Homo sapiens: one gene and its partners. The protein of the gene in region 1 purifies or fractionates together with the protein of each later gene. This does not show direct contact. Each region holds a gene or a part of one and is shown in the gene's direction. Other genes may lie near its edges.

The links.
Region 2: the proteins of PAGE1 (region 1) and ABHD10 purify together in Homo sapiens (co-immunoprecipitation; 2 studies listed by BioGRID and IntAct, with this or other methods). This does not show direct contact.
Region 3: the proteins of PAGE1 (region 1) and UTP4 purify together in Homo sapiens (co-immunoprecipitation; 2 studies listed by BioGRID and IntAct, with this or other methods). This does not show direct contact.
Region 4: the proteins of PAGE1 (region 1) and AMPD2 purify together in Homo sapiens (co-immunoprecipitation; 2 studies listed by BioGRID and IntAct, with this or other methods). This does not show direct contact.

Annotation. Positions count from the first base shown.
Region 1 is NC_000023.11:49,692,944-49,699,878, reverse strand, and holds the start of PAGE1 (P antigen family member 1), read left to right. Parts: upstream 1-3,894; 5' UTR 3,895-4,010; exon of another isoform or gene 4,011-4,020; intron 4,021-5,100; 5' UTR 5,101-5,108; coding exon 5,109-5,171; intron 5,172-5,677; coding exon 5,678-5,780; intron 5,781-6,935.
Region 2 is NC_000003.12:111,988,980-111,993,868, forward strand, and holds the end of ABHD10 (palmitoyl-protein thioesterase ABHD10, mitochondrial isoform 1 precursor), read left to right. Parts: intron 1-1,720; coding exon of another isoform or gene 1,721-1,762; exon of another isoform or gene 1,763-1,772; intron 1,773-2,397; coding exon 2,398-2,742; 3' UTR 2,743-4,389; downstream 4,390-4,889. UniProt on the Homo sapiens protein: Acts as an acyl-protein thioesterase that hydrolyzes fatty acids from acylated residues in proteins.
Region 3 is NC_000016.10:69,149,634-69,156,679, forward strand, and holds part of UTP4 (U3 small nucleolar RNA-associated protein 4 homolog), read left to right. Parts: intron 1-903; coding exon 904-1,075; intron 1,076-1,179; coding exon 1,180-1,271; intron 1,272-3,950; coding exon 3,951-4,047; intron 4,048-4,759; coding exon 4,760-4,824; intron 4,825-6,237; coding exon 6,238-6,360; intron 6,361-7,046. UniProt on the Homo sapiens protein: Ribosome biogenesis factor. Involved in nucleolar processing of pre-18S ribosomal RNA. Part of the small subunit (SSU) processome, first precursor of the small eukaryotic ribosomal subunit.
Region 4 is NC_000001.11:109,629,837-109,632,597, forward strand, and holds the end of AMPD2 (AMP deaminase 2), read left to right. Parts: coding exon 1-80; intron 81-396; coding exon 397-570; intron 571-846; coding exon 847-957; intron 958-1,106; coding exon 1,107-1,316; 3' UTR 1,317-2,215; downstream 2,216-2,761. UniProt on the Homo sapiens protein: AMP deaminase plays a critical role in energy metabolism. Catalyzes the deamination of AMP to IMP and plays an important role in the purine nucleotide cycle.

The DNA of each region.
Region 1 (6,935 bases):
TCAGCTGATGAATTGGTAAACAAAATGTGGTACATCAATATAATAGAATATTATTCAGCAATAATAAAAAATGAAATACTAATACATGGTACAATGTGGTTGAACCTTGAAAACATTACACAAAGTGAAAGAAGCCAGACACAAAAGGCTACATATTGTATAATTCCATTTACATGAAATGTCCAGAATAGGAAAATCCATAAAGACAGAAAATAGAGTTTCTTTTAGGGGTGATGAAAATGTTCTGGAATTAGTACTGATGGTTGCACAACTTTTGTGAATATACTAAAAATACTGAATGGTATACTTTAAAAAAATACTGATTTTCCTTAGGGGCACATTTTCTAGTTACCACTTTTAATAAGTAAGGTATGTCTTCTAACTTTTGCAGTCCTCCTAAATGTACACCCCCAGGCAGCTGTACAAAATGGACCTGCTTTTGGTCTCTTGTCATTGTCTTATGTTCTTCTACAGGCACAGCTTCTGTGTCTTCTATCTCAGTCCATTAGTTATGACTGGCAAATGCTGATAGAGACCCACATAGAGGACTTTAAAGGTTATCCAGGCCGCTTTATAAAATAGACTAGTTCAGGTGATAGAGTAAGGACTACAAAATATGCTAAGGGTTTAGGAAAGGTTTAAAAAATAGTTATGGTTTTTTTCTCCCTTTCCTTCTGCTTTTATTCTCTCTATAGTCTTAGAAAAGATGATTGTTATGGCCTCTGGTTAGTTTTAATCATCTGGGGGAACCCTGAAAGGCCCTAAATTGCAGCTCTAATGTCCCTTTAGCTGTCTCTGCTTCAACATCTACTACTACTTTGCTTATATTTGATTTATCTCAAGCAGGGTCTTCCAAAAGTGTCTGATCAAGCCATCTCCAATAAGCTGGTTGACTTTAAGATGGTAAAAGCTTTACATCTTACCTTTCTCACTGCTCTGAACACTTCGTCAAAGGCCTATTGGTAATATATGTTCTAAACTAGCCATCCTCAACACCAGATACGCATTTAAATAACCTGAGAAATACTTTTTAAATGCTCATGAATAAATGACTAAGCCCCAGACCCAGCTTAATTGTCCTGGGGTGGAGGCTGATAATCGATATCTTTGTGGTTTTTTTGTTTGTTTGTTTGTTTTTGAGACGGAGTCTCACTCTGTCACCAAGGGTGGAGTGCAATGGCACGATCTCGGCTCACTGCAACCTCTGCCTCCCAGGTTCAAGCAATTCTCCTGCCTCAACCTCCCGAGTAGCTGGGACTACAGGCATCTGCCATCATGTCCAGCTAATTTTTGTTTTGTTTTGTTTTTTTGAGATGGAGTCTTGCTCTGTCGCCCAGGCTGGAGTGCACTGGCGCAATCTCGGCTCACTGCAAGGTCCACCTCCCGGGTTCATGCCATTCTCCTGCCTCAGCCTCCCAAGTAGCTGGGACTACAGGCGCCTGCCACCACGTCTGGCTAATTTTTTGTATTTTTAGCAGAGATGGAGTTTCACCGTGTTAGCCAGGATCATCTCGATCTCCTAACCTGGTGATCTGCCCGCCTCAGCCTCCCAAAGTTCTGGGATTACAAGCATGAGCCACCACGCCCAGCCTAATTTTTGTCTTTTTGTAGAGATGGGGTTTCACCATGTTGGCCAGGATGGTCTTGAACTCCTAACCTCAGGTGATCTACCTACCTCGGCCACCCAAAGTGCAGGGATAACAAGTGTGAACCACTGTGCCCAGCCGAAAATCAACATTTTTAAAATGTTCTACCAGGCAATTCCAATGGGCAGCCAGGGTTGATGAAAACTGCACCAAAAACACAGCTATTAGAATGATCAAAATCCAGATCACTGACAACAACAAATTCTGGGGAGGACGTGGAGCAACAGGAACTCTCATTCGTTGTTGGTGGGAATGTAAAATGGTAAAGCCAATTTGAAAGGCAGTTTGGCAGTATTTCTTACAAAACTAAACAAACTCTTACTATTCAGTCCAGTAGTTGTACTTCTTGGTATCTACCCAAAGGAGTTGAAAACTTGTGTCTGGACATGGATGTTTATAGCTTTTTTAAACTAGCATCTTTAAAGGCTTTCCCAGATAATCTCAACATCTCTGTCTTTGCATTGGTGTCAGTTGTCTGTCTTTCTCCATTTGAAATTCCATAACTTCCTTTTTTTTTTTTGAAATGGAGCCTCACTCTGTCACCCAGGCTGGAGTGCAGTGGCACGATCTTGGCTCACTGCAAACTCTGCCTCCCGGGTTCAAGGAATTCTCTGCCTCAGCCTCCCGAGTAGCTGGGATTACAGGTGCCCGCCACCATACCCAGCTAATTTTTGTATTTTTGGTAGACATGGGGTTTCACCATCTTGGCCAGGCTGGTCTTGAACTCCTGACCTCGTGATCTACCTGCCTCAGCCTCCCAAAATGCTGGGATTACAGGTATGAGCCACTGCACCTGGCCAAGATGCCTAACTTTCATGCTTCTTCGTATTCTGAGTAATTTTGAATTATATGCTGGACATTTTGAATATCAGGTTATGAGACACTTCAACAATTTCTTTTTGTTTTGTTTTAGACACAGGGTCTCACTCTGTTGCCCAGGCTGGACTGCAGTGTGTGATCATAGCTCACTGCAGCCTTGAACTCCTGGGCCCAAGGGATCCTCTTGCCTCAGCCTTCACAGTAGCTAGGACTACAGGCATGTGTCATCACACTCAGCTATTTTTAATTGTTTTTTTGTAGAGACAAGGTCTCACTATGTTGCCCAGGTTGGAAACTCCTAGCCTCAAGCCATCTATCTTCTTACTTCAGCACGCAAAAGTGCTAGGATTATTGGTGTAAGTCACTGCTCTTGGCCACACAGAACAATTTCTATTTCTCTATCTTTGAGTTCACAAACTCTTTTCTTGTCTCCATTCTGCTATTGAATCCATTTGGGGAGAATTATTTTCCTTCGTTATCATATTTTCCACTTCTAAAATTTCCATTTGCTTCTTCTTTAAATATTCTTTTTTTGTGTGTGTGCCAGGACTTTGTTTTTACTTGTTTCAACAGTGTTCATGATTGCTTGTTTAAGCATTTTTTTTTTAGACGGAGTCTCACTGTTGTCCAGGCCAGAGTGCAGTCGCGTGATCTCGGTTCACTGCAACCTCTGCCTCCTGGGTTCAAGCAATTCTCCTGTTTCAGACTCCCGAGTAGCTAAGACTACAGGTGCGCGCCACCATGCCCAGCTAATTTTTTGCATTTTTAGTAAAGACGAGGTTTCACCATGTTGGTCAGGCTGGTCTCGAACTCCTGACCTCAAGAGATCCACCCGCCTCGGCCTCCCAAAGTGCTGGGATTACAGGCATGAGCAACCGCGCCCAGCCTAAGCGTTTATAAAATAGCATCTTTAAAGGCTTTCCCACATAATCCCAACATCTCTATCTTAGCAGTGATGTCTGCTGATTGTCTTTCCCTATTTCAGTGGCCCTATGTTCCTGGTTCTTCATATTCTGAGTAATTTTGAATTATATGCTAGACATTTTTAATATTTAGTTATGAGACTCTTAGTCTTGTATAATGCTATGAGGTATGTTGCTATTTCTGTTTTAGCAGGTCGTCTACCTCACTTCACAGGCAGCCACCATGGTCCTTGTCCCTATGGCAGGGCCAGAGCAAGAGAGGGCCCTGGAGGGGAGGGGGGCTCAGTTGAAGATGGAATGAGTTTTGAGGGGAGCACTATTTGAGGTATTTGAGTACCCGAGGCATATGAAACAGCAGAGGGAGGTCGGATTCCATTATCTTCACGGGGATGAAAATCGGGAGTGTGGGGTGTGGGGCTGGGAACTGCAGCCCTCCCCACCTTTGGGTGCTAGCCTCAGTGCGCATGTTCACTGGGTGCCTTCCCGTCGGCCCCTTCGCCCACGTGGAGAACGCCAGGGAGCTGTGAGAGTGTGCAGTCGCGTTCCTGCTGTCCGGACACTTTTTTCCTCTACTGAGACTCATCTGGTAGATCCGCAGGCCAGTCCTCCCAGGGGCTGAAGTGTGAGTGAGGGTGAGGAGGAGCCAGTGGGCTTCAGGCGGAGCCAGTGGGCTTCGGGCAGGTTCGGTGGGCCCCTCGGTCTGGTGGTGTGTGGCTTTTGAGGGAGAAGGGCCTCAGTGGCCTCCAAAAGAGAAGGGCCTCGAGCTCGTCCTCCTTCTCCTCACAGGCTGCGACGCCGCCATCGGCTTTGTGGTCGTGAAGGGGCCAGGACAGGGAGGAAAGTGGGCCATGAAGGGGAAGCGGTCAGGGGCTCAGGTGAAAATGAGGCGAGTGCTGCGGGTGCTGTTGGAGGGGTCAAAGTCCCGAGGTGGTAGGAACCCATGACACAGGGCACATTCCTGAGTCCTGAATGGGGCCCCGAGGCGGGAGGTGGGTGGTGAAGATGGCGGTAAAGAAGGGGCCTGGAACCTGGGAAGGCTGTGGGCTGGTGAGCGCCCCCCAGCGGTGTGGAGTGGGGAGTGCCCGAGTGAGAAACACCCGAGTGAGAAGCGTGGCAAGGTCTCACCTCTGCCATAGAAGGTCCGGAAACAATGGGAAGGACTGGGAGAGGCTGTGTGGCCCAACCAAACTTGATTTGAGGGGGGTGAATGGCTCTAGTAAGTGGGAGTGTGCCAAAAGCAGCAGTCACGGGAATTGTGATTCACTAGTGTTTTCATGTGGAGTCCGCTTGTGAAACTAAACCTCATCAGAAACGTCCTCTGTCAGAGGGGCGCAGTGGTGCGCGCCTGTAGTCCCAGCTACTCCGGACGAGGCAGGAGGATCGCGTGAGCGGGAGGTCGAGGCTGCAGTGAAGTGTGATCACGCCACTGCATTCCAGCGTGAGCAACAGAGCGAGATTCTGTGTCTAAAAGAAATTTTAAAATAATGTCCTCTGCCTTTTGCCACATGCCTTAAGATGACTACTCTGCCAGCTTGGGGAGCATAAGTGGCTTTGCAAGCACTCAGAAAACGTACACACTTGCACTTAACTCTGGGACTTATTTTGAGAGTATTTTCAAAATTAAAATGACAAGTTAACATTTAGCCATGGAAGTGATCGAATATAGCTGTCCTCTCAAGTGCATGTTCCCAATCACAATTTTCTCTTTTCAGTGTGAAATATGGGTTTTCTAAGAAGATTAATCTATCGGCGTAGACCAATGATCTATGTAGAATCTTCTGAGGTAATTGGGCCTATGCTGTTGAGTGCTTTAACGTTAATTCGATGTTTTCTATTAGCAGAAATTAATTTTTGTGATAGTGTTGTTGCATTAGTATAGATACACTAATAAAGGTAGTTCATGCTGATTAAAAAAATAAGATTCTGGTATCTCATGAAGGAAATATTGATTCAGGAGGATTTTTTTTTTCTCTTGTGTTCTCCAACTTTTGGCCATGACTTCTTTCTCATGCTTTGCTTGTGAATGACACATAGATTATACACATCTATTCCAACATAGAGTGCAATAGCTTCCAAAGTCCTTGTGGGTAACTTTTCTCGCAGTAACCTTTCTGTGGGTAGAGTAGCCTTATTAACCATATAGAATAAAGTTGGAGAAATATTTTTAGGTTTAGTTATGATCAGAAACATCTATGCATTCTCTGTGTGTATACGTATATATTTTTTGACATGTATTAATAACAAAACTTTTTGTCTTTGCACACTCACACACATATTCCCTACCACAAGGAGTCCAGTGATGAGCAACCTGACGAAGTGGAATCACCAACTCAAAGTCAGGATTCTACACCTGCTGAAGAGAGAGAGGATGAGGGAGCATCTGCAGCTCAAGGTGAAGGGAAAGGGAAGAAGAATGCCTGTTGGGGTGTGTGTGTGTGTGTGTGTGTGTGTGTGTGTGTGTGTGTGTGTCTCATGCATTGTCACATACCAGGAACAGGAGGAATGAAAGCCATGCAAACGATGCCTAGAAATTGACTGGAAAAGTGAAGAGGGTATAGTTTGCAGCTTACCTTAGGGAAATAAATCCCTCACTATGATAAAATTTCTCCACTTTATGAATGAGAGAATGGAGGCCCGGGGATTGTGTTTTGTCCAAGAACACTTGACTGGTGAATACAAAATTTGTGTTTTGTTCCAAAGTTTGTGTCTTCCTACCATCTATGTTGCTGTAACAATAGTAAATGATTTTGCTGAAAGTGCTTAAAACTCAAATGCTTTACTGTAATGTAGCTTAGTACTGGCCCAGGAATAGACCCAGTTCAGAGGAGCAGGAGCAACTCCAAAAACTGAGTTCCTGATTGCTGGCCACCATTTCCTTTGATATTTTTATGTGGTAAGTTTGTTGAAAGCTGGAGAATTCAGGATACTGCCATACAGGTAGCTGGTGTAGTATGATTTTTTAAGTGGCTTTTAGGAGGTGATTAAATCCTTTTATGGTTAGAAAAACCAAAAAAAAGGAATTATCCTGAGATTAACATGAGATGGAAATAATTTCTCCGAGATAAAATATTTTGAAGCAAAACAATTATCTAACTCAGGTCATGGATTATTCTAAGGATTCACTGTTAAAGGTATCTAGAATAAGACTGACAACAATGCCCATTAATTGCTGTCCACTCATTCCTTTGTTCTCAGCGTGAGACAGTATATTTGCTGTAATTCACAAATAGTGTTATTTTTGGTGCTTTGTTCTACATGGGGTTCATTTATGGAATATTACATTTAGGACCTTTGGACCTAAATATAACTTTATTTGAACAAAGTTAAGTTTCTGTTTACCCCAGTAGACAATGGGTGTCGTGACTGTAAGATTTTCCATAGTCCTCAAATCCATCCAGCTGCTCAATCCTTCAGAAACTGACACTGTAATTGTAACTGAAATCCTATCCATGATGTAGACTTCAGATTTCTCAGCTGATGCACACTGCTGTTGGTACTCTATGGCCGAATATAAGTATTATACATGTCCTGTGGTTTATCCTTAGAT
Region 2 (4,889 bases), on another chromosome or scaffold:
AATCAAGGCATTTTTTGCTAATACTTACTCAGATAAGCAGTTGTTAACAGAAGCATGTTGAGCCCTTGGTTAACTTAAAAGCATGTATAAGGAAAGAGCACCAACACTAAGACCGCTATCTCTTCTCCACATAAACAGCTAGCCCTAACAATGTCAACGGAGCAGATGTGGAGATTTTTACTATCTTTTATAACCCTGGGAATAGTAAGCCCAGCATTTCTCATTTCTTCTCTAAGAACTTGACCATCCTCTTTAACTGACTCTAATCATTATCACCTTCTTTGGACACTAGAGGGCCTCAGACATGATGCACAGCTGTTGGGAATGTAAGCTTCTGAACCACATTGCCTTGATAAGTTTTGTTGATGTAGAACTTAATATATTGTACATTTTCTTTGGGTAATGTCTTTGCTGTTTCTGAACTTTTTGTTCTTGAGGACTTGAGACATACAACATTTTATAAAGTTAACTTTGTTCTTCAGATGGACCATTTTCATTCAATTCAGTGGCAGGTAGCAGAGCTAGTTGGGGGCCAGGGATGCTTAAAATGAAACTATTATTAATTCAGTGTCGCCTTAATTAGCAAAGCCTCCACTTCAGCTAATAACCAGTGGGACTAAGTTCTATCTGCTGAAGTATTTACAAATTCAGAAACAATCCTGAGTAGCTTGAGGATAGCTAAATGTCATCTTTACTTTAAATATTTGGTTCATATGTTGTTTTAATACAGAGAATGCCATGATATTGATATAGATTTATATACATTTTATAGTTTTGTAGAATTTCATTAATTTTAAATCATTTGGAGACATATTTAGAAGTACAGTTTTTTTTTTACTGAATTATTAAGTCTTTTTGGAATTAAAAATACATTAAAGCCTAAGTACATATAGATTATATTATGTCATACATATTTTTTAAGTTCTTGTTTTCCTTTTTACATTTGCAATAAATTAACAATTTTAAACATGGGAAAATCATAGTATATTTGTTGAAACTTTAAATTTTTCAAATATGTGTAGCTTTTCTTTCCTTATTTTTTAAAATTTTTGATAAGATGTCCATTCCATTTTTCTAGAAATGCCCTTAATATTATATGATTGTAACAGTCTTGAAACTATTCATAGCTTGATTTTTGTTTTAGTTTTAAGCTGTGATCATCTTTCCAATAATCTATTATATATAAATAAACTTTTATGCTCAAAAGTGTTCATGACAATACCACAGTATGAGATGGTCAAACTAATTAAGTCAATTATGGTGGACTGCTGTGCAGCATTTAAAACCTTTTCATAGAATTTTTTAAACCCAGAAATATATGTACTAAATAAACAGCATAGAAAACTGTATATGAATGTGTAATATGTATGTATTTTACATATTACACAAAAACCAAAACACATATAGACAAATATTGGAAGGAAATAAGCCATATATTAATGGTTTTTCTCTCCATAAGATAGGATTATGGGTGATTTATTTCTTTAATTATTTTTATGTTTTCTATAATGACTGCATGTTACTCATTATACAAAATTCTAATTTTTTTAGAAAAATTAAGATAAATTATATAAAAAATAAGAGTTCTCAAAAAGTCAAAGGACATGTATATTTCATTTTAAGGGAATAAATATACAGATATTATTGTTTGGCTTTCAGGAAGTATGTGGAAGACTTCTTTGTCATCCAGAACAAAAATCAAATTTTTTCTCTTTTATAGGACTCTGGAAGGAAAAACTATATTTCTTTACATTCAGCCTAAAATTGCATGAGTATGTGTATGATTGTTACAATGTAATTACTCTTATTTTTTTATTCTTAGTTCTGTGTTTGATTCTTTCTCTTCTTTCCCTATGCCATATCCATTTTAGCTACTTATAAGCACTTTTAGGTTTACAATTTTGAAATCTAAACAATGTTTATTCTAAGATTTGATTTTATTTAAATATGAATGATACCTGGACTGATTCCAAGAAATTGTAGTGCTTTTCTCCCTCTTCATTTTTCTTTTCAGTTGGGGTGAAGCAACATCTGATTTGAGATAGTGTATGATAAAATTAAATAAATTTAAATTTAAGTTTGAGTCTTAGCCATAACAGTTAGTAGCCTAGCCCTGAACTGTTGCACACAGTATTTCATTTATCTAAACCATAATATCCTCTTTTATAAAAATAGAATAATAACAGAATTATTATCAGAATCTTATGGAATAATATGTATAAAATACCCATCACAGTACCTTGCATGTAGTAATTATTGATAATTATTATTGTTATACTTTTGTTATCTCTATCCTCTTATTCAAGAACTGCTTTCATTAGATTACTTAAAACTATTGCATGTGTTAATGTTGCCTAAAGTCACAAATACTTTTATTTTTCTTTCTTTTTCCAATAGCTAAAAAAGGAAGTAGAGATGAAAGGTGTGTGGAGCATGCCATCAAAATACTCTGAAGAAGGAGTTTATAACGTTCAGTACAGTTTCATTAAAGAAGCTGAACATCACTGCTTGTTACATAGCCCAATTCCTGTGAACTGCCCCATAAGATTGCTCCATGGCATGAAGGATGACATTGTACCTTGGCATACATCAATGCAGGTTGCCGATCGAGTACTCAGCACAGATGTGGATGTCATCCTCCGAAAACACAGTGATCACCGAATGAGGGAAAAAGCAGACATTCAACTTCTTGTTTACACTATTGATGACTTAATTGATAAGCTCTCAACTATAGTTAACTAGTATCACATGTTTAGTTGGTATGTAAACTAATGTATCCAGAAGATTGGAAGAGGGATAAGAAATGAAAGATCCTGATACTTTAGGTTTTTCCCTTTCCTCTATTTTGTAAATATAAGATGAGTATTATTTAATGATGTATTTGCATAAGTAATGCAAATTGTGAAGAAGGACCAGCTGCTGTTTAGAAAATTTTCTCCTTCCTTCTGTCCTTGATTTTTTTTCATTAAAGTATTTCCTTTTTTTAATTCAAGAAAAGTTTACCTTTCTTATGCTTATGTTAGCTATGCCAGCTCTTAATTGCATCCTTTTCTAATTAGGATTATTAATAAAGCGTGAATATTTTGTTTTTTATTATAGACAGAAATTTGTAACATTACTTCTGATTTGAAAATGCAATTCACAAAATATAGGGAAATTTTTATTGAAGTAAATTTGAAATGATGGAGAAATTTCAGAAGCATAATAAAGTTCACAATAAGGATAATACTTTATATAATGTATAAAGTATATATAATATAATATATATGTTATATAAACTGCACATTATATTCAAACTTAAAATTGAGCTTTTTTTTTAAAGGCCCAAAATTGTACAGTGATACAAGGAGCTATTTCTAAAATTTGGCTTATGTATAATATATTTAAATGGGGAATTTCATCTAAAACAATGATGTAGTATTTTTAATATTCTGATTGGTAAAATTAAAGAGGAAATTAATCTTTATATATTATTTCTTGCAGAAACATTCATTATTTTATTAATATTGCCCTAAGTACAACTAGGCAAGTGATTGCCACCTAAATCAGAAGACGTTCTAAAGTCAGTAAGAAAGTGTGAAATGCTAGTATAAAGGTTATTTTTTTTCTTTCCTAAATAACTAAAGTGAGGTGTAGATTGAGCCTTGATATTATTTAGTTAATGTTTTTTATTAATTAATTTTGGCTGGACTTTATTTAGCTTGATTAGGTTATTATCTGTCAAACCTTTTAAGTTGACAACATGACTCATATATATACATGTGTATAAGATGAGCATGTGTCGAAGACTTATTCGACTCATTAATGAGGAAACCAGCAGATAGTAAACCTGGTTCAAAGTACAATTCAAGAAACTGAGTATTTATGGGCATTGAAGAAAAAATGTTGAGATAAAATTGCTGTGCAGAAAAAAGTGTTAATGAAGCCGACCTGACTACTTAACCTTAGAGACCTGCTTTACAAGGTTGGCCCTTGATTGGCATCTGGGAACTTGGAGTTCAGGGGGCTTCCACCATTCCCAGAACTGATCAAAGTAGCTTACTATATCTAAACTGTAAAACAATATAGTTTCTCCTGAACACCTGCTTTCCTTCTGGGAGTCTGGAATTTTGGTATGTGCCAGGCAGAGACTACCTTTGTGACCAGCTCCCAGTAAAAACCCCAGGCACTCAGTCTCTAACAAGCTTTTCTGGTTGACAGTGTTTCACAAGTGCTGTTACAACTGGTTGCTGGGAGAATTAAGCTCATCCTCTGTGATTCCACTGGCGGAGGATTCTTGGAAGCTTGCACTTAGTTTCCCCTGACTTCACCCCATGTGTCTTTTTTCCTTTGCTGATTTTGTTTTGTATCCTTTCACTGTAATAAATCATGGCCGTGAGCAGAACTGTATGTGGAGTCTTATGAGTCTTCCTAGCAAATCTTCAAATTTGGGGGTGGTGGTGAGGGCCTCTCCACAGATACAAAACTGGTTTATGTCCTACGGGGCAATTAAACTACAATCCATGGGTTATCTTTTATACTGGACAAAAATTACAAACAGCAAAGATAAATCATCTATGAGTGCCACAGTCTCTGGTGCTGGAGTGGGTTGATAGAAGATGGCACTGGCTATTCAAGGACTTACTTTGCCTAGACATTGCTAGGTGTGAGGCTTGTTAGGAACATGAAGGCAAGGGCCCTTGCCAATGATGGTTTTCTGCGCAAAATAATAAATATGATTTGAGATTTATAATACATATGTAGAGACAGTATAGCATAATGGTTAAGGTCAGAGACAAGCTTGGTTTTTAATTTTGGCTCACCATTTACTAGCTCTGTGACTGAGCAGTTAACCTCACTGAGTCTCAGTCTCTTCTGTAAAATAACATAAACCTAGATAATGCGGTGTA
Region 3 (7,046 bases), on another chromosome or scaffold:
CCTCCTACCCAGTCTCCTGAGTAGCTGGGACTACAGGTTTGTGCTGCTCTGCCCACCTTGTTTATTTAAGAAACTTTTTTATTGGTGTTTCTTGCATTTTTTTTTCTTTTTTTAAGCCAGAGTCTCGCCCTGTTGCCCAGGCTGGAGTGCAGTGGTGCGATCTTGGCGTACTGCAACCTCTGCCTCCCAGGTTCAAGTGATTCTCGTGCCTCAGCCGTCCAAATAGTTGGGATTACAGGCATGCGCCACCACGCCCAGCTAATTTTTGTATTTTTAGTAGCGACGGGGTTCACCATGTTGGCCAGGCTGGTCTCAAACTCCTGGCCTCAAGTGATCCACCCAGCTCAGCTTCTCAAAGTGCTGGGATTATAGGAGTGAGCCACCATGCCTGGCTGATGTTTCTTGGATATTTTTAATGAAATAAACGTTATTAAGAAACACCTGTTCTAGTTCCAAATAAAGGATTTTCAGTATTTTTATTGGTTTAATACATTTCTTTAGTGATAATAACTTGATCATGTTAAATATTCGTATTAAATAACATGATATGAATTTCTTTGTTAGGTTTTCTCTTATGTTCTTTCGAAGGATTTAAATTTCTCAAGTAGGTCCTAGGTATTTTCTCTCTCTCAATGCTATTCTAAGGAGATCTATGTTGGGTATATGAAGCGTTGCTGTACTGTAGACGTTAATTTTGTCAGTAGGGGGCGCATTGTTACCAGTGTCTGAGCTTGCTCCTTTGATGGAATCCTTAGCTTCTGGAAGGAAAAGACCCTTGTAACTTTCCTACTGATTCTGGGCATAGGTTTACCCCTAAGCTGCTGAGACAGAAAGCCTCGGAATATTTTTCCAACCAGACCTTGTTTTGCTTACGTGTACCTCCCTCATGATTTAATTCCTCAGCAAGAAGACAGTTTCGTGGTGGGCACAGCCGAGGGAACAGTCTTCCATTTTCAGCTGGTCCCTGTGACATCTAACAGCAGTGAGAAGCAGTGGGTGCGGACAAAACCGTTCCAGCATCACACTCATGACGTGCGCACTGTGGCCCACAGCCCAACAGCGCTGATATCTGGAGGTGGGTTCCCCCTCTGGTGAGGCTGCTGCTTTACCCTGCCCAGTTCTGGCTGTTCTCGTGAGGATGACTTCTAATTCTGTACACCTTCTCCCCTGCTTTCCCAGGCACTGACACCCACTTAGTCTTTCGTCCTCTCATGGAGAAGGTGGAAGTAAAGAATTACGATGCCGCTCTCCGAAAAATCACCTTTCCCCACGTAAGTGTCCATTCCAAGCCCCTGCTAACCCCTCATCTCCCCATCCCTGTGTCCCCCTGTCCCACAAGCTCTGAACACAGCTCACGCTCGGCAAATTTGTAGGACTTTTTTTTTTTTTTTGAGACAGAGTTTGCTCTTGTTGCCCAGGCTGGAGTGCAATGGCGCGATCTCGGCTCACCACAACCTCCACCTCCCGGGTTCAAGCGATTCTCCTGCCTCAGCCTCCCGAGTAGCTGGGATTACAGGCATGCGCCACCGCGCTCAGCTAATTTTATATCTTTAGTAGAGACTGGGTTTTTCCATGTTGGTCAGGCTGATCTCGGAACTCCCAACCTCAGGTGATCTGCCCGCCTCAGCCTCCCAAAGTGCTGGTATTACAAGTGTGAGCCACCACGCTCAGCTTTGTGGTCCTTTTTTTTTCTTTTTTTTTTTTTTTGAGACTGAGTCTCTCTCTGTCGCCCAGGCTGGAGTGCAGTGGTGCGACTCCACTCACTGCAAGCTCCGCCTCCCAGGTTCATGCCATTCTCCTGCCTCAGCCTTCCGAGTGGCTGGGACTACAGGTGCCCACCACCACGCCCGGCTAATTTTTTTATTTTTAGTAGAGGTGGGGTTTCACTGTGTTAACCAGGATGGTCTTGATCTCCTGACTTCGTGATACGCCCGCCTCGGCCTCCCAAAGTGCTGGGCTTACAGGCGTGAGCCACTGTGCCCAGCCCCTGCCTTTTTTTTTTTTTTAACCATCTGGGACATGGAGATATTGTAGGACTTTCTGTAGCTACCTTCTTCATTCCTTCTGTTTTTGAGGCAAGCCACTGCAAAGACATTTATGGGGGCAGGAGATATGCAGCAGCACACCTAGTTCAGTTTCTGGGGAAATTTTTCCCTTTTCCAAATAGTTGTGGGTTATGGGAATTTTGTTAGTTTGTCTTTCAGGGTAGGCTCTATTCTGGGTGGGAGCGGGAAAACCCAGGCTTCCAGTGTTCTAGGTAAATGGTACCATCTTCCCAAGCTAGAAAACTTGCTCCCCACACCTGCTGCCCCATTCATTCAAGCAGTAAACCTCATTGAGTCTACTCATCAGTATCTTTATACATATGTTATAGATATAGATAGATAGATAGATAGATCAACAGCTCTATTGAGGCATACTTGATATATTAAAAATCATACATATTTAATGCATATGGTTTGATGAGGTTGAACATAGTCCTCATAATCTCTTGAATCGAGTCATTCATTTCTCTTTGTCTACGCTGGCATCATCCTAGTTTGGATCAGTGTCTTTTCTCATCTGGGTTCCTTTACAGTAGCTTCTTAATCATGTCCTTTTATTTGCATTTGTGTCATTCTAGCCTATTCTTCATTGATCTTATTTTATTTTATTTGTTTTTGTTTTTTTGAGACAAGGTCTTGCTCCGTCACCCAGGCTGCACTGCAGTGGTGTAATCTTGGCTCACTGTAACCTCTGCTTCTTGAGCTCAAGCAGTCCTCCCACATCAGCCTCCCGAGTTGCTGGAGCTGCAGGCATGCGCCACCAGGCTCAGCTAATTTCTGTTTTTCTTTTTTTTTTTTTTTTTTTTTTGAGACAGAGCTTTGCTCTTGTTGCCCAGGCTGGAGTGTAGTAGTGAAATCTCGGCTCACTGCAACCTCAGTCTCCTGGGTTCAAGCGATTCTCCTGCCTCAGCCTCCCTAGTAGCTGGGATTACAGGCACCCGCCACCACGCCTAGGTAATTTTTTTTGTATTTTTAGTAGAGACAGGGTTTCACCATGTTGGCCAGGCTGGTCTTGAACTCCTGACCTCAGGTGATCCACCTGCCTTGGCCTCCCAAAGTGCTGGGATTACAGGCATGAGCCACTGTGCCCGGCCTCGGCTAATTTTTTTATTTTTTATTTTTTTTAATAGAGGCAAGATCTCACTATCTTGCCCAGGCCAGTCTCAAACTCCTGGTCTCAAGCAATCCTCGCACCTCAGCCTCTCGATTGCTGGCATTACAGGCATGAGCCACTGCTCCAGGCCCATTGATCTGTTTTAAAGCACCTTTGTTCATCACTCCATGCTTCAAAGCCTCTGGTTATCCCTGTTGGCTTCAGCATAAAGACAGTTTCCTTAGTGTGTCTTATAGAACCTGTCTCCATCCAGGCCTGGCCCTTCAGCTTCTTTTTGCACCTCTCGTGCTTGTAGCACCCCCACCCAGGCTAGCCATTCTCAAGGTCTTTTTGTTCCCTCAAATACTCTTACCTTTGAGCTATGTCACATGCCATCACCCTCCTCAGAATGTTCTGCCCTGCCTCCTTCGCCTGACTGGTCTTTCCCAGTGAACCTCATCTGGGCTTCTGTATTTACCACCACACAGCTAGGTTAGATGTCCTGTCTCCTTATTTTTCAGTACATACTGTGTTTAGCCGTGTTAAAATTCTTGGCACACTGAAGTCTAATTGCTGATTTAATTCTGTGTCACCCCTTTAGAAGCATGTTGAGAGCAGTAGCTATGTTTTAATTCATCATCGTCTTCATAGATCTCAGGGCAGTGCCTGGCATATGGGAGTACTTAGGAAATATTTATCAAGGAAATGGATTTCAGCAGTAAAAAATGTGCTAAGGTGGTGCTACTGTATCTGGTACTAAGGCAGTAGATGACCCTGACTTATTTTTTTAACTTCTTGATTCTTGGATATAGCGATGTCTCATCTCCTGTTCTAAAAAGAGGCAGCTTCTCCTCTTCCAGTTTGCTCATCACTTAGAACTTTGGCGACTGGGATCCACAGTTGCAACAGGTAAGATGGGAGCACGTTTTTTTCAATAAGAAAACTGGAGAGAGAAGCCAGAAATCAGAATTGCGGTTGGAATTCTGCTTATAGAAAAACTGAAGTAGACTTTTGTGTCCATTTTAACTAATGGTTTTCCCACCCATTAGATAAAGCAAATAAGCTGTTTAGAGTATTAGAATCTTTAGCAGGATATTGGATCATCTCTTAAAAGTTTATGGCTCTAGGTGGTGCGCTGCAGGGTGTAGTCAAGGTAAGGGTTGAAGAATCGTAGTTTGCGCTAGCTTAACTGAGGTGAAAACAGGCTGTTGAAAAACAACAAGATTTAATGATGGGTAATGATAATCCTGTAGAAAAAGAAGATCACATGGATCTTATTGGAGTGACAGCCTAGTGGCCTTTTTGACTTATTAAGGAAATGTTTGAGTCCTCTCATTTGCAGTGGATTAAAATCGAGGCCACACAAACTCCACCTGTGTCCCTGGCTATGGACTAGAGCTTCAGGGAATTAGTGATGTATCAGAGGATAGAAGCAAAAGAAGTACTCACTGCTTTCTCTTCATATACCCCTCAAAAATTGTGAGCTTACTCAGTGAGCTTGTATTTTTCTGATTTCCCACTGATAGAGATTCCATTTTTCCAAGGAGTAACTTTTTAGAAGAAAAATGTACAAATACTCTTTCTTTCATAAGAAAAATCTCAGGGAAGTTTCTTGTTTCAGGCAAGAATGGGGATACTCTTCCACTCTCTAAAAATGCAGATCATTTACTGCACCTAAAGACAAAGGTAAGGAAGTTTGTTTAGGCTCTGAATTCTAGAGCCTGAATTCTAGGCTCATAATTCCCATTCTGAATTTTGAGGTTACTTAGTTTGCATCATAAATTGTATAAATTCTAAAACTATTTGAATGAAGGACTGTGTCACCAGGACTGGGTTTCCTGTGATTATAAGTAGGACGTTGAGGATTTATTAGATGGATGTATACAGGAAATAGGTTTCTCTTCTTTTGATATTATTATGAAAATAATGTGCTTTTATTTATTTATTTATTTATTTATTTATTTATTTATTTTTGAGACGGAGTTTCACTCTTGTTGCCCAAGCTGGAGTGCAATGGCACCACCTCAGCTCACCGAAACCTCCGCCTCCTGGGTTCAAGCGATTCTCCTGCTTTAGCCCCCCAAGTAGCTGGGATTACATGCATGCGCCACCACGCCCGGCTAATTTTTTGTATTTTTAGTAGAGATGGGGTTGGTCAGGCTGGTCTTGAACTCCCGACCTCAGGTGATCCGCCCGCCTTGGCCTCCCAAAGTGCTGGGATTATAGGCGTGAGCCACCGCGCCCAGCCATGTGCATATTTTTAAAAACTCAAATAGTACAAAAGGGTATACAATGAAAAAAAAATCATTTTGTGAGTTTTTAAAAACTACATACATGTTACATTCAACTTTTCTTTATTCTCCAGATTCTTTTTTGTTTGGTTAGTTGGTTGGTTTTTTTGTTTGTTTGCTTACTTTTTTGAGGCAGGGTCTCATTGTGTTATCCAGGCTGGAGAGCAGTGGCACGGTCACGGCTCACTGCAGCCTCAACCTCCCAGGCTCAGGTGATCCTACCACTTCACCCTCCCAGGTAGCTGGGACTACAGGTGTGCACCACCATGCCCGGCTAATTTTTTGTAGAGTCAGGGTTTCACCATGTTGTCCAGACAGGTCTTGAACTCCTGGGCTCAAGCAATCCTCCACCTCAGCCTCCCAAAGTGCTGGGATTACAGGCATGACCCACTGTACCTGGCCTTCAAATGTTCTTCATTTGCTATTTCTTAGAAGTCTTTAAAGCAGAACGCCGTACACAAAACAGAAAATAAGTACTTCAAACCACCTATCCTCCAGAGCTTTCCTTCAGTAAATGCCTCCCTGCTCAGGTTTCTGAAGTTGGGGTCTAGTATGAGGCTATCTATGAAGTATTCAAAGGGCCAAAATAAGAATAGACCTCCATTCTTGGATTTGGAAATCAAAGCCATGCCTTTTAGGTGCTCTGCCTCTGAAATAATCATATTAATGCAGACCACACGAGGATCGAGATTATGTGTAGATATCTGTGGGTATGTCCAGAGTGGCAAGAGCTTGAGGCGTCATGTCCCAGTGCACCTTGTTATGTGAAGTTTAATTGCACATTCATCTTGATTCCTGATATTGCCAGGGTCCTGAGAACATTATCTGTAGCTGTATCTCCCCATGTGGAAGTTGGATAGCCTATTCTACAGTTTCTCGGTTTTTTCTCTATCGGCTGAATTATGAACATGACAACATAAGCCTCAAAAGGGTAAGTGATAGTCCAATATCTGGTCACATAAGAGGAAACTTCCTAAATATGTCATTTTTGTGTGAAGTGGAAATCAACTGGATGTGAATCCTTGCTCAGTTAAAAACTATTTGGAGATTTGGAGAAGGCTGTTATGAAACAGTGTTTTATTTCTTTCTTTCTTTTTTTTTTTTTTTTTGAGACGGAGTTTTGCTCTTGTCACCCAGGCTGTAGTGCAATGGCACAGTCTTGGCCCACTGCAACCTCCGCCTCTTGGGTTCAAGCGATTCCTGTGCTTCAGTCTCCCGAGTACCTGGGATTACAAGCACCCACCACCACACCTGGCTGATTTTTGTATTTTTAGTAGAGATGGAGTTTCACCACCCGTTGGCCATGCTGGTCCTGAACTCCTGACCTCAAGTGATTCACCCGCCTCAGCCTCCCAAAGTGCTGGGTGCTGGCATTACAGGCGTGAGCCACCGCACCCAGCCTTTTTTTTTTTTTTGACCGAGTTTCACTCTTGTCACCCAGGCTGGAGTGCAATGGCACCACCTCAGCTCACCGCAATCTCTGCCTCTCGGGTTCAAGCCATTCTCCTGCCTCAGCCTCCCGAGTAGCTGGGATTACAGGTGCCCACCACCAGGCCTGGCTACTTTTTGTATTTTTAGTAGAGATGGGGTTTCACCACGTTGGCCAGGCTGTCCTGA
Region 4 (2,761 bases), on another chromosome or scaffold:
GGGAGGCTGGGCCCATCCACCACCTGGTGTCAGCCTTCATGCTGGCTGAGAACATTTCCCACGGGCTCCTTCTGCGCAAGGTCAGGATCTGCACCCCTAGCCTTCCCTCCCAATTGTTCACCTTCCTCTGAACCATTCGGGCCCCTTCAGCAACCGATCCTCCTCCCACCCAGCCCTCAGATTGGATTCTGCCTTCCCAATGTAACTACCCTTCCCCACCCCAGCCTTCAGCCTGGGGCCCCAACTTGGATTTTGACTAATTCACCCTTTGCACATCAGGCCAAGCCTGGATTCCCCTCCCCCTGCCCTCTGCTGTGGCCTGGACCCCCAGAACCACTGTGCCCTGCCCAGCCTCGGGGCCACCTGACAGGCCCTCCCTCCCTGTTGCCTGCCCAGGCCCCCGTCCTGCAGTACCTGTACTACCTGGCCCAGATCGGCATCGCCATGTCTCCGCTCAGCAACAACAGCCTCTTCCTCAGCTATCACCGGAATCCGCTACCGGAGTACCTGTCCCGCGGCCTCATGGTCTCCCTGTCCACTGATGATCCCTTGCAGTTCCACTTCACCAAGGTCAGAGCCCAGCAGGCAGCCAGGCGGGCGGGCGTCCCAGGACGCTGGGGTCTCCCGGGTTGGGTGGGGGGCGGTGGGGGGGGCGGTCTCTCGGGTTGGTGCTGCCCCCTGCTGGTAGAGCATAGCTGGCCAATTGACAAGTCTTATGGAGTTGAGGGGTTGGGGGGTTGGGGGGATGGGGGGGCGGGGGTGGGGAGAGTGAGTGAGGAGGCTGGGGAAGGGAGGCAGGGGCAGCTGGCCAGGGCGCACTCGTCTGAGGGAACCTGGCCCGTGCAGGAGCCGCTGATGGAGGAGTACAGCATCGCCACCCAGGTGTGGAAGCTCAGCTCCTGCGATATGTGTGAGCTGGCCCGCAACAGCGTGCTCATGAGCGGCTTCTCGCACAAGGTACTACAGCGCCTGCCTGGACCTTGGCATGGCATCACTCCTCCCCTCCTCTGCATTTGGGGTCCTGACCTGTCCCTGGGATGGCTTGGGGTGGGGCATGACCCCTCAGCACTGGCTGCAGCCCTGCCCATTACCCCCGCTCCTTGCAGGTAAAGAGCCACTGGCTGGGACCCAACTATACCAAGGAAGGCCCTGAGGGGAATGACATCCGCCGGACCAATGTGCCAGACATCCGCGTGGGCTACCGCTACGAGACCCTGTGCCAGGAGCTGGCGCTCATCACGCAGGCAGTCCAGAGTGAGATGCTGGAGACCATTCCAGAGGAGGCGGGTATCACCATGAGCCCAGGGCCTCAATGAGCCTGGTCCATGAAGTGCCCACCACATCGCAGCACTTTTACCACGTTTTGTCCTCAGACCCCGCCCATGCTGTGTGGTCTCTGCATGTCTCCATTCTTCTCTGTCTCTGTCTTGCATGTCTCCTACCATGTCACTGTCCCTGGGCCACCCAGTGAAAGCAAAGCCTGGGAATCTGCTCATTGTTGTTTGGGCTCAGGTATTGAGCCTGATGGCCCAGGTATTGAGGGCCTCCCCTGCTGGTGGCCCTGTCCTGGGATCCTCAGAAGCCTGACTGTCCTATGGGCTTCTCCAGTGTCCACAGGGGCTTGGGATGGTTGTGGGGGGCTGGCCCCTCTAGCCTTTCCGGTCCTTCCTGGGCAAATCTAAGCCTTGGCCAGGGCCGAAGTTTAGGCCCCTGTCTTGTTCATGTAGCCGAGGGGCAGGCGGGGGACCTCTACACCTCTGCTGTGGGCACGGGGCTGCTGAGGGTCTGTGGAACTCCAGCAGCTCTGCACTGGGTAGAGCTGGGCCTAGAGCTCAGTCACAGGCCTGGGCTTCCTGGCCTGAGTGGGTAGACGCAGGCGGCAGAGGTGCTGGACCACATCTCCGCCAAGTCACTGCCCAGCAGCCTTCTCCGTCCTGTCCCCAGCCCACGTGCTCCTTGGGTGTCAGCTTCCTGTGCCTCTGTGGGAGAGGGCAGCTGCCTTGTGTTATGTCTGGGGCCACAGTTGCTGCAAAGTCCTGGATCTGCCACTCAACCCCGGGAGTGGTGTTCCCAGTGTGGCTCCCAGAGCTTTGACCAGATTGTGATCCCAGCTGGCCCCTATGTTGTGTTCTGGACTGAGGCCTTTGCTGTGAACTGCAGTGTTTCATACGAACCATCTTTCCTAGTGCATGAGAAATAAAGATTATTTAAGTAATGAGGCAGGTGGGGTTTCTGTTGGGAGAGGGAACGCCGTGGTGGGAGGTGGCTGTGGATGGAGGCACCGTGCATTCTGAGGGGAGGGACTAGGCTTGGGTGATGTGTATGTTGTGCATGTGGAAACTGACAAAAGAAGCTGTGGGAGAGAGGAGATGCCCATCCAACCCTCATCCAGCCTGTTCCCTGTGAGGGGAACACCTAGCCCCGGGTCTGTGACACATCCCTGTCACACCAGCTTGGGGGCTGGTGTCTGTTTCCCACCTTGTACTTCCTCCCCTCTTCCAGCCTCTGAGGGGATGGCCTGGTAGATGGGAAATATGCACCTACAGACAAACCTGAGACCAGGGTCTTCTGGGGGGGTCTTGTTTAGATGGCCCTCTCCAGGCCATACTCTCAGAGATTCTGATTCAATAGGCAGAAGGTGTGGCACAGACATCTGCAAACTCTCGGGCAGATTCTATTGCAAGAGGTTGGAACAAGCCTGTGCATTCCGATTCCAGCCCCCCGCCCCCGCCCCAATCCCATCTCAGCCTCTGTCCCATGT